2 separate regions of the Homo sapiens genome follow, and region 1 is linked to region 2. Evidence: fine-mapped QTL for protein levels in blood plasma. A gene starts in region 2. The other region holds a variant in brackets. All regions are shown on one strand. Distances are from middle to middle.

Evidence for each region. PIP is the posterior inclusion probability: the model's chance that the variant is causal. The UK Biobank Pharma Proteomics Project read protein levels with antibody pairs (Olink). The fine-mapping took linkage between variants from a reference panel, not from the people measured, so its PIPs are less certain.
Region 1: its variant is fine-mapped to the plasma level of the ADGRD1 protein (UK Biobank, PIP 0.99).

The regions. Positions count from the first base shown.
Region 1 is chr12:131,008,458-131,012,840 of GRCh38, forward strand. The region is part of intron 12 of ADGRD1 (adhesion G protein-coupled receptor D1); the gene reads left to right. Among named protein-coding and RNA genes, the nearest start is that of ADGRD1-AS1, 17 kb to the left of the region's middle. RefSeq lists an enhancer at 2,015-3,214. The variant A/G (reference allele first, on the strand shown) is at 2,313.
Region 2 is chr12:130,952,088-130,956,470 of GRCh38, forward strand. ADGRD1 (adhesion G protein-coupled receptor D1) reads left to right here and starts at 1,820. Exons shown (of 25, transcript NM_198827.5): 1 at 1,820-2,444; 2 at 2,537-2,573. The coding sequence starts at 2,379.

The DNA of each region.
Region 1 (4,383 bases), 56 kb after region 2:
GAGGGTGAGGGTCTAAGTCAGTACGTGAGTCTCAGTGCACAAAGGGTGGGGCCTGGGCCGGAAGGAACTTTTGTCTCCACAGCCAGCCCCAGGCAGACCATTCCAGGGCTCCTGTGATGACGGAGGGGATGATATCTGACCACCCACGGCCCGGTGGGGGCTTAGCTGCTTCTTGCCCGGCTGCTTGTACCCCTAGGATCCTTTGAGTCTCACTCGCTGCCTGGCCCCGCAATGATGGAGACTGTTCAGCTTTTACGGGTGCTCGTGCTAGGCTCAGCCAGCACCGGGACAGCCGGTTCCTCCAGGTGGACGGGGCTGAGACTGGCCTGCTCCCAGTCCTCCTGTGAAGATGGAAGCCACAGCCCACAGAGGGAAGGGCCTCTCCCCAGGCTGTGAGGGACTCACGGGTGCTCGAGAAAGATGAGTGGGGAGGTGGACCCGGCTCAGCGTGTGTCCTTAGTCACTATAGAGTGACACGGAGCACCGATGGAACCAGTAGGTCACGGTTCTGCAGCCCTCAGTGCAGTAACTGACCCAGGCAGAAGCTATCAGTGGATGTGCACACCAGCGGGAGCAGGGTTGCGGGGCGGGGGACCTCACCGACCTGCAGAGTCCTAGCTGTACCAGGTCGGAGGGTGCCTGGTGATGGGGATGTCTGCCGCACGCCTGCAGCCAGGTGGCCACACTCAACATTATCAACGTGGGACACGTTGTGGGCCCGTGTCTCTTGCTGTCACGTCATGGGAGACGTCCATGCCTCCTGTGGCATACTCCTGTCAGATGCATGGCCTCACGCCCCTCACGAGGAAGCAGTCAGACACACCTGAACTAAGCGATGTTGTGTGCTGCTGTGGTTTCGATTGCAAGGGAGAAGAAGTTGGGCAGTTCCGGATTGGGGGAGACTAAAGAGGTTCGTGCCTGAGCTAATGCACATTCCTGGGTTGAGAGAAGTGGAGTTCTGGAGGACGTGTGTGATGGTGGGGGGTGTGTGCAGTTGACTCTGGACTGTGCATTAGAGCATCTTGTAGGGTCCTCGTTAAATTTCTGAGTGTGATCATTGTTTGATGGTTATATAGGAGGCAGTCTCCATTTTTAGGAGACACGTGGTAGAGATGGAGTATGCTGTGATGCCTGCAACACACCGCTAGTGCTTCAGCAGAAAGGAAATGTGCATGTGTGCGTGTATTTGTGTGTTGTGTGTGTGCACACAGGTGCATGTATGTGCTTGTGTGGTGTATGTGCGTTATGTGTGCACATATGTGCATGTGTGTTTTGTGTGTGCTGTGGGCATGCAAATGCGCGTGTGTGCATTTGTGTGTTGTATGTGCATACATGTGCGTGTGTGTGTGTACATGTGTGGTATGTGTGTGTCAAGTGTGAGCGTGACCACTGCCAGATAAAGTGAACATGGCAAATGATAAGAGCTGAGAGTGTAGGTGAAGCCTATGCGTTGTACTGTTTTCTGGCAGATTTCCTGCTGGTTTGACTTTTAACAGTGCAAAGCTGCGGGGGCTCCTGGCATGGGCAGGAATTGTGGCTGTTGCCGTCCTTTCTGAAAGGCCCTGGCTGCAGTGCTGCTCGAAACAGAGAACAACGTCACCTGGGCAGCATCGGTGCTGAGGAAGTCGCCTGTTACCCTCGATGCTGTCTCCTTCTGCTGTTTGCGTCAGTCAGGGGCTCAGTCTCCTTCAAGAATTCACCATCACCCAAGATCACACTCAGAGATGCTGCCATGTGCCACCTTGTTGGCAAGATTTGGAGTTTCCTTCACACTGTGTTCCCAGGGTGGCGTTGAATTCTCGCGCTGAGGGAAGGTGACAAGCAGTGTGTGACGGATGGGTGAGGGGATTCCTTGAGCACACAGGCATGTGTCAGCAGGAGCCAGTTATCAAGGAGTTCCTTTACCAGGGAATATTTTCATTTGCGATGTTTGTTCACTCCCCAATGTGACATGGTAACTGTGAGGACTTGATAATTCTCCAAATAACCGAATAACAGCCCTTTTTCTTACTCCACTTGGTCTGACTTCTTTGGATTGAGTTCCTGAGCCGGTCTTCTGCACAGGCTGGGAAGTCTCTGTGTCTCCTCATAGATTTCAGCACTCCTCTGAAGCCTCATGTAACTTTAAGTCCCCTCTTTGTGTAACGGAAGGCGGAGCAGCAGCGTGGCTTTGGCTCAGATGTGCTGCGTGGGGTGAAGGACGCAGAGCCTGACCATCGGTGGGGCTCCGTGGGGCCAGGTAGTAACTTGGGGCACATTGAAGGAAGGCGGATTTGCAAAGGTGCAATCAGGAGTGGAGAGCTCTGGGGGAC[A/G]GCACAGTCACGGGCCAGGAACAAGAATGGGGGCACGCTGCTTTCCCCAGGGCCAGCCAGGCAGGCCCTGGAAGAGATGGCTTTCCCCGGGCAGAGATGGAGGGGCCCCCGGGGCAGCGACTGTGCCCTGGTAGGCTGAGGGAAAAGAATCCTGGCCCCACTATCTGCTCCGATGCCCTCTGACCTTCTGGGGCTTCCCTTTTGCTGAGCACATGAAGGGAGAGAGCCCAGAGCCTGGCTGATGGGCACAGGACGGGGCGGGTGGAGGCAGGGTATAAGGGGCAGAGGAAGAGCCAGCACAGCCTCTGCCCCACCCTGCCCCACCTCACCCCTGCCCCACCCTGCCCCACCTCACCCCTTCCCCACCCTGCCCCACCTCACCCCTTCCCCACCCTGCCCCACCTCACCCCTGCCCCACCCTTCCCCACCTCACCTCTGTCCCCACCTTTACTGGAGGAAAATGCTCCTAAGGAGGCGTCTGGCCCCATTCTCATCTTGACTTGGCCGACATCTGGCGTCGCACTGATTACCAAACTGGGCCTGGTGGAGGCCACGTGTTCCCGGAGCGGAATCCAGGAAACCACTCCAGATTTGCTCTCATATCATTTGTGTTCATAGAAGGTTCTCACTTAATGTTTTCCTTATGTTTTTCCTAAGAAATGGATCTAAGTCATCGCCGCTTGCCTGTGAGTAGATTCATCCACTCGCTCACTCACTCACGTGTGTGCTGAGCACCCACTGTGTCAGGCGTGGTTCCGGGAGCTGGGGAGAGCAGTGAACCAAACGGGAAAGCATCCGGGCCCCAGGGGAATTTCTGTTCTGGGAGGGAGATGATGACCACCGGTTGCACCATCAGGAAATGTCCACGGAGGGAAAGTCAAGGGACAAATCATGCTGCGTGTTTAGGGCCTGAAGCCCACAGCTGCGACTTTCTGTTCTGGCTAATGGCACAGCCCTAAGTGTTGCTAGCAACGTGGTTTTTCCAGCGCGTTTGGTGGAATTGCACACGTGTTGAGTTCATGGAGCTCTGCAGAAAAGGCCACGAGCATCGGGGCACTGGGCACAGAGAGTGAGAACCAGGCTCCTGGCTGAAGCGAACACACCACACGTCTTAGGGCCTTGGAGTCGCGTGCGGGGCGGGGACAAGGTTCTGCTGAGTGAGTCAGGCTGGGCGCCGCGGGGCTTTGCCTTGGTCCCCCCCAACTTTCTGCGGCCTCGAGCCCACCCTCACTTTCTGCGGTGGGGACTGAGCCCACGCATGCCCAGTGGTGAATGTTCTCAGACGGTGAATGTTGTTCTTCCGGGGAAACATCTGAGATACTACCCGGGTCTGCGGCTCTGCAGAGTGGAATGTTTATGTACGTTCTGTACGTACAGCTTGTATCTCTGTGGGACTAAAACTTTCTGGGCAAGTTTATTAGAAAAAAATGTCTAAAAAGCCTCTTCAGAGGGGCTATAATGAAAAAAATGGTTGAGACACGTGGACCTAGGGTGATGCTTTCTTTTCATTTTTTTTTTTTTTTAAGTTTGTGTTTTACTCCATGTGTGTCATCTGGACTTTGGGCTTGGATCAATAACATGGTCACATAGAGGAATTGCCGGGTCGAGCAGTCGCGTCTGTTGTTACTCACAGGCCTGAGAATCGATGACCCTGGTTTGCTCCAGACCCTGTGAACTGGTGATGATCTGCAGGAAGTCGCTTCTGCGGGAACAGACAGGGTGTTCATTCTCTATGGCGCCATCTTTGTAAACACTTTGTATTTACAATTCCAGGAATAATTCTGCGTGCTTCTTGGAGGCCTGCTCTTTCTCAGGGATGTGTGTAAGGAGACAGTGCAGAGGCCGGGGGTGAGGTGGGACGTGCTCCTGCTCCATGAGCCCCACCGCCCATCCCAGGCAGGGTCACTGAACACGGTGTTTGAATCTAGTTAGAAGGAAAAACAAGTTGAGGGAGGAAAAATATGGTGCCCCCAGCTCCCAGAGCCCTGTGGGATGTCCCAAAGGTGGTTCAGTGGGTGTCGAAACAGGGACCTGCAGGTTCCTCAGTCAGTCAGCGCTTTGGATGGTGGAC
Region 2 (4,383 bases):
GGGTGCCGAACACCCCGACGTTTGGGTGATGGAATGAGATGCTCAGAGACATCAGAGTTGCTTGGTTCCAGGCCCATGGACCACTCAAGGCCCTGTCTCAAATCTCCAGGCTTCAGGACACGCTGCTTTACATGGAGGCGGGCTCTTCATCTGGGCCTCTGAACAAGGCCTGAGACAGGACGCAGGCAAATAGCATGAGGCACGAGACTGTAGTCCGGGATGGAGAGTCAGAGTGAGTCTGAGGATGAGTGCAGATGCCTGCAGGGCAAGCTCTGCTGAATTGCTTTGCTATCTAGTTTTTATTACAGTCATTGAATCGGGGTGTCTCCCATTATCTGATGACAATTTTATGATGAAAAGAAACCATGCTGGCTTTGTTCGGTCATGGAGATGGGAAAGGTCCGCATATTCAGCAATCTGTTGAATTCTTCCAGGTTAAAACTGGAGCTGAGAAAAACCTGCAGCTGCCTGTCCCTCCCTTCACCTCTTCCAGCGAGAGGCAGTGGGGGACTGGAGAGCTGATGAAATGGCAGAGATAAAGGTTGTAAATTAGTTTTCCCTGAAGCCGACCAGCCTGAGCAACAGGATAAAGGTCGTTATTACAGACAGCCCCCGGCCTTTGGAGTTCACAGTTTCTCCATTGCTAGGAGATGGAACTCTCTGGAACCCTTCTCCAGCTCCACAGAGAGGCTCAGGCTATCAGAGGATCTGAGCGGTTGTAGGCTGCAGGCACAAGTTAAAAATAATCACCTAACGTTTTGACAGCACTTTCTTTTTTTCTGTCCCACAGAGATTGGAAGTCATTTTCTTATCCTCTTTAGGAAGTATGTTGGATTCAGGATTCTTAATTCCCATTTAAAGTCAGGACAATTGAGATAACTGTATCAGCTAACATTTACTGGGTGTTATGTTATACTTGCTAATAATAATCATAGCTAACATTTACTGAGTGATAATTTTTCTTAATAGAAAATAGCAGCATTTACTGAGTGCCACATATTTTCCAAGTACTGCCTGAAGAGCCTTGGATCTGTCCTCTAATTTATTGTTACAGCCCTGAGGAGGAGGAACTATTAACCCCCATTTTGTGGATGAGGAATTCGAAAACTAAGAGAGATCAAGTAATTTGCCTAGGAGCACAGCTGGTGAATGTTGGAGAAAGTATGAAGCGGTAAATATTACTTAAATCACATAGCAAATATAGCTGTGACTGCAATTCTAGGGTGTGTGTCTCTGTGTGTCCACGTGTATTTGGAGTAGATCGGATAAACTTTGGTCTTGGGTAAACTGAGGCATGTCTGGCGAAGGGGCTGACTCTTTTCTATCCCATTGAGAACATCCTCCTGGTGCTGGGGTGGGGGTATATGTGGGATGGTGTAATTGCGCAGCGTACCTTGTAATTAATTCCGTAGCTTTCACTGACGTCCGAAAGGATTAGAGAGAAAAATGTGGTCAGCGCTTAATATGGAGGGCACAGTGGGTGTGCTGCTTTCTCTTTTCCATCCCTCTGTCAACTTCATTCTCTTTTGGGGGCAAACAAGACTCAGATCTAAACAGAGTTTATGGTTTGTTTTGCATTTTGTATTTATTAATATTTATGCCGACTTTGAAGGTGCTGACCAGAAGGCATCAGTAACACACACACGCACACGCACACACACCACACACCATGTCTGTTTGGTTTGATTCTGAGCCTGAGATCCTGGAAATATTTCAGCTGTTGTTAAGAGGCTGGAGTTAGGACCCAGGAAGGACACAGCAGTGGGGATATAAATAGAAAAGGAGAACAGAACAAAGTTTGAGGAGAGAGACTTACATCACTCACTCCCCCTCCACCCAGAGAGCAGGACGGAGGTGTGAACTTGAGCCAGACCAGAAGGAGCTCGAGAGCGGCCGCAGGACAAGCCCGAGGAGCAGGCGGGCGCTCCAGGGGAAAACCACGCACAAAACCTTCTTCAGAGAAAAGGGAAGCTCCAAACCTGACTGAGACAAACGGAGGCTCTTGAAATAAAAAGAAAATACCGCAGGACAAACAGCCTCCCGTCCCCGGGCGCAGGTCGCGGTCACAGTGGTGACCTGGGATTGCTTTCCCAGGACTGCGAGTCGGGTTTGGGTTTCTCCTCCCTGCATTCCACAGCTGCTCTGGTCATCGCAACGTGTTTATTGATCACTGAAGAATCTCAAGTTTTGAGACGAGGAAGAAACACCCATTAGGTCTCCAAGACAGCTGTGTTTCACAAACTTTAAGGAGACAGAAATTTTCTCCCCTGGAACCTGTGAAAATGTCCCTTTTCCAAGGAAGTGAAGGTTAAGAGGTCCCGTTCTCACAGACCCTCAGGAATTTCACTTGGCTCCGAGCTTTGACCTCCGAGAGAGCCATGGAAAAGCTGCTGCGGCTGTGCTGCTGGTACTCCTGGCTGCTGCTATTTTATTACAACTTTCAGGTAATGTCCCCAAGTGGCCAGGATGGCGACAGGCTTGGTTTCTCCGGAGGCTTTCCCTGAGTGTGTCTCACACTGTGGTCTTTTGTGCGCAGGTGCGTGGCGTCTACTCCAGATCGCAGGACCATCCAGGTAAGAGTGTTTCCTTCTCACTCTGAGCACCGCTCTCCCCCTGCCTAGTGCAGGTATCTCAGGAACAGCCCACTTGTTCATCTCTGAGGCATCAGCGAATGGCCCTTGTTGGGCTCCTGGTCCCCGACCTCACTGCCTCACCACACACTGTGACCCTGGGCAGCTCTGCTACCCCTCACCGGCTGAGCGGTGGATGGAGAAGTGGTTCTGGGCCCCTTGAGCTGGGTCATATGAAACATTGTGATTAAGGAAATATGATCTTCATTTGAATGCCTTCTGCCTCTTTCTTTCTCTCTTTCTCTCTTTCTTCCTTTCTTCCTTTTTTTCTTTTTGAGATGGAGTCTTGCTCTGTTGCCCAGGCTGGAGTGCAGTGGCCGCAACCTCTGCCTCCCGGGTTCAAGCAATTCTCCTGCCTCAGCCACCTGAGTAGCTGGGATCACAGGTGTGCACCACTACACCCAGCTTTTTTTTTTTTTGTATTTTTAGTAGAGACAGGGTTTCACTATGTTGGCCAGGCTGGTCTCGAACTCCTGATTTCAGGTGATCCGCCCGCCTTGGCCTCCCAGAGTGCTGGGATTACAGATGTGAGCCACCACACCCATCTCATGTCTTCAGGGCAGATTCACTGGTGGGGAGTTGGAGCTCTGGCCCATAGCAGGGTCTCGGGACCTCCAGCCTCAGAGTGCTGACCAGCTTAGCCTGGAGCAGCCGATGAGTGGGACTCGGGATAGAGGGCCACCCTTGCTCCAGCCCCAGAGCCACATTCCATTGGCCATTGTGACACCCAACCAGGAAGCATCAGGACGGGGCTTCTCTCGGGAAGACAGGGAGGCACACACCCTTCGCTGTTAAGAGTGTGGGCACACGTTCTGGTCAGCCAGGGGCAGGGATGGGAAGACGAGGCTTTCTGGGAGCAGCAGGCAGTCACTGGGCTGTTGCTCCCTGCTGGAAGTTGCAGGAGGTGGGGAGGAGACCCTGCTAGTGCCTGAACCCCTGCTGGGAAGCCTGTTGTGAGCACAGCCTCTGCCCCCGCCCCACCAGAGCTTGGCTGGGCACCCCCCCGAGCGCTATTGTATGGCCCTGCCTGTCTCTGATGGGAAATCAGCCTTTTTAAAAAAATTATTTTTGTTTTTATTTTTTGAGACAAAGTCTCACTCTGTCACCCAGGCTGGAGTTGAGTGGTGAGATCTCAGTCTCGGCTCTCTGCTACCTCTGCCTCCCGGGTTCAAGCGATTCTTGTGCCTCAGCCTTCCAAGCAGCTGGGATTACAGGCCCATGCCACCACGCCTGGCTAATTTTTGTATTTTTAGTAGACACAAGGTTTTGCCATGTTGGCCAGGCTGGTCTCGATCTCCTGACCTCGGGTGATCCAACCACCTCGGCCTCCCAAAGTGTTGGGATTACAGATGTGAGCCACTGGGCCTGGCTGGGAACCAGCCTTTAATGATCAACCACAAATGGACTCAGGCCAGCACTGTGGGCAGATCCCAGGGCGATACCCAGGCCTCCAGGGAGAGCCCCTTTCCTGGATGGAGCACCAGGAGCCTGCTGGGGTCTAGGGCCAGGGGCTGTGCCCTCAGCCTCTGTCTCCTTTCCGGCTGCCCGGCAGCCCCATGCCAGGATGTTCCAGGCATCGTCGCCTCGCCACCACCTCCATTCACCAACTCGGGGGTGGGGACGCTGCCACTTCTGTTTCGTCCACATGCATAGGGAGCTCCTTTTAAAAAGGTGTGGAAGCTGTGAGTTTCCACACATTCCCCTCTCCTCAGCCAAATCGCTGAATGAAACAAGGGCTCCTGTGGCTTGGGAA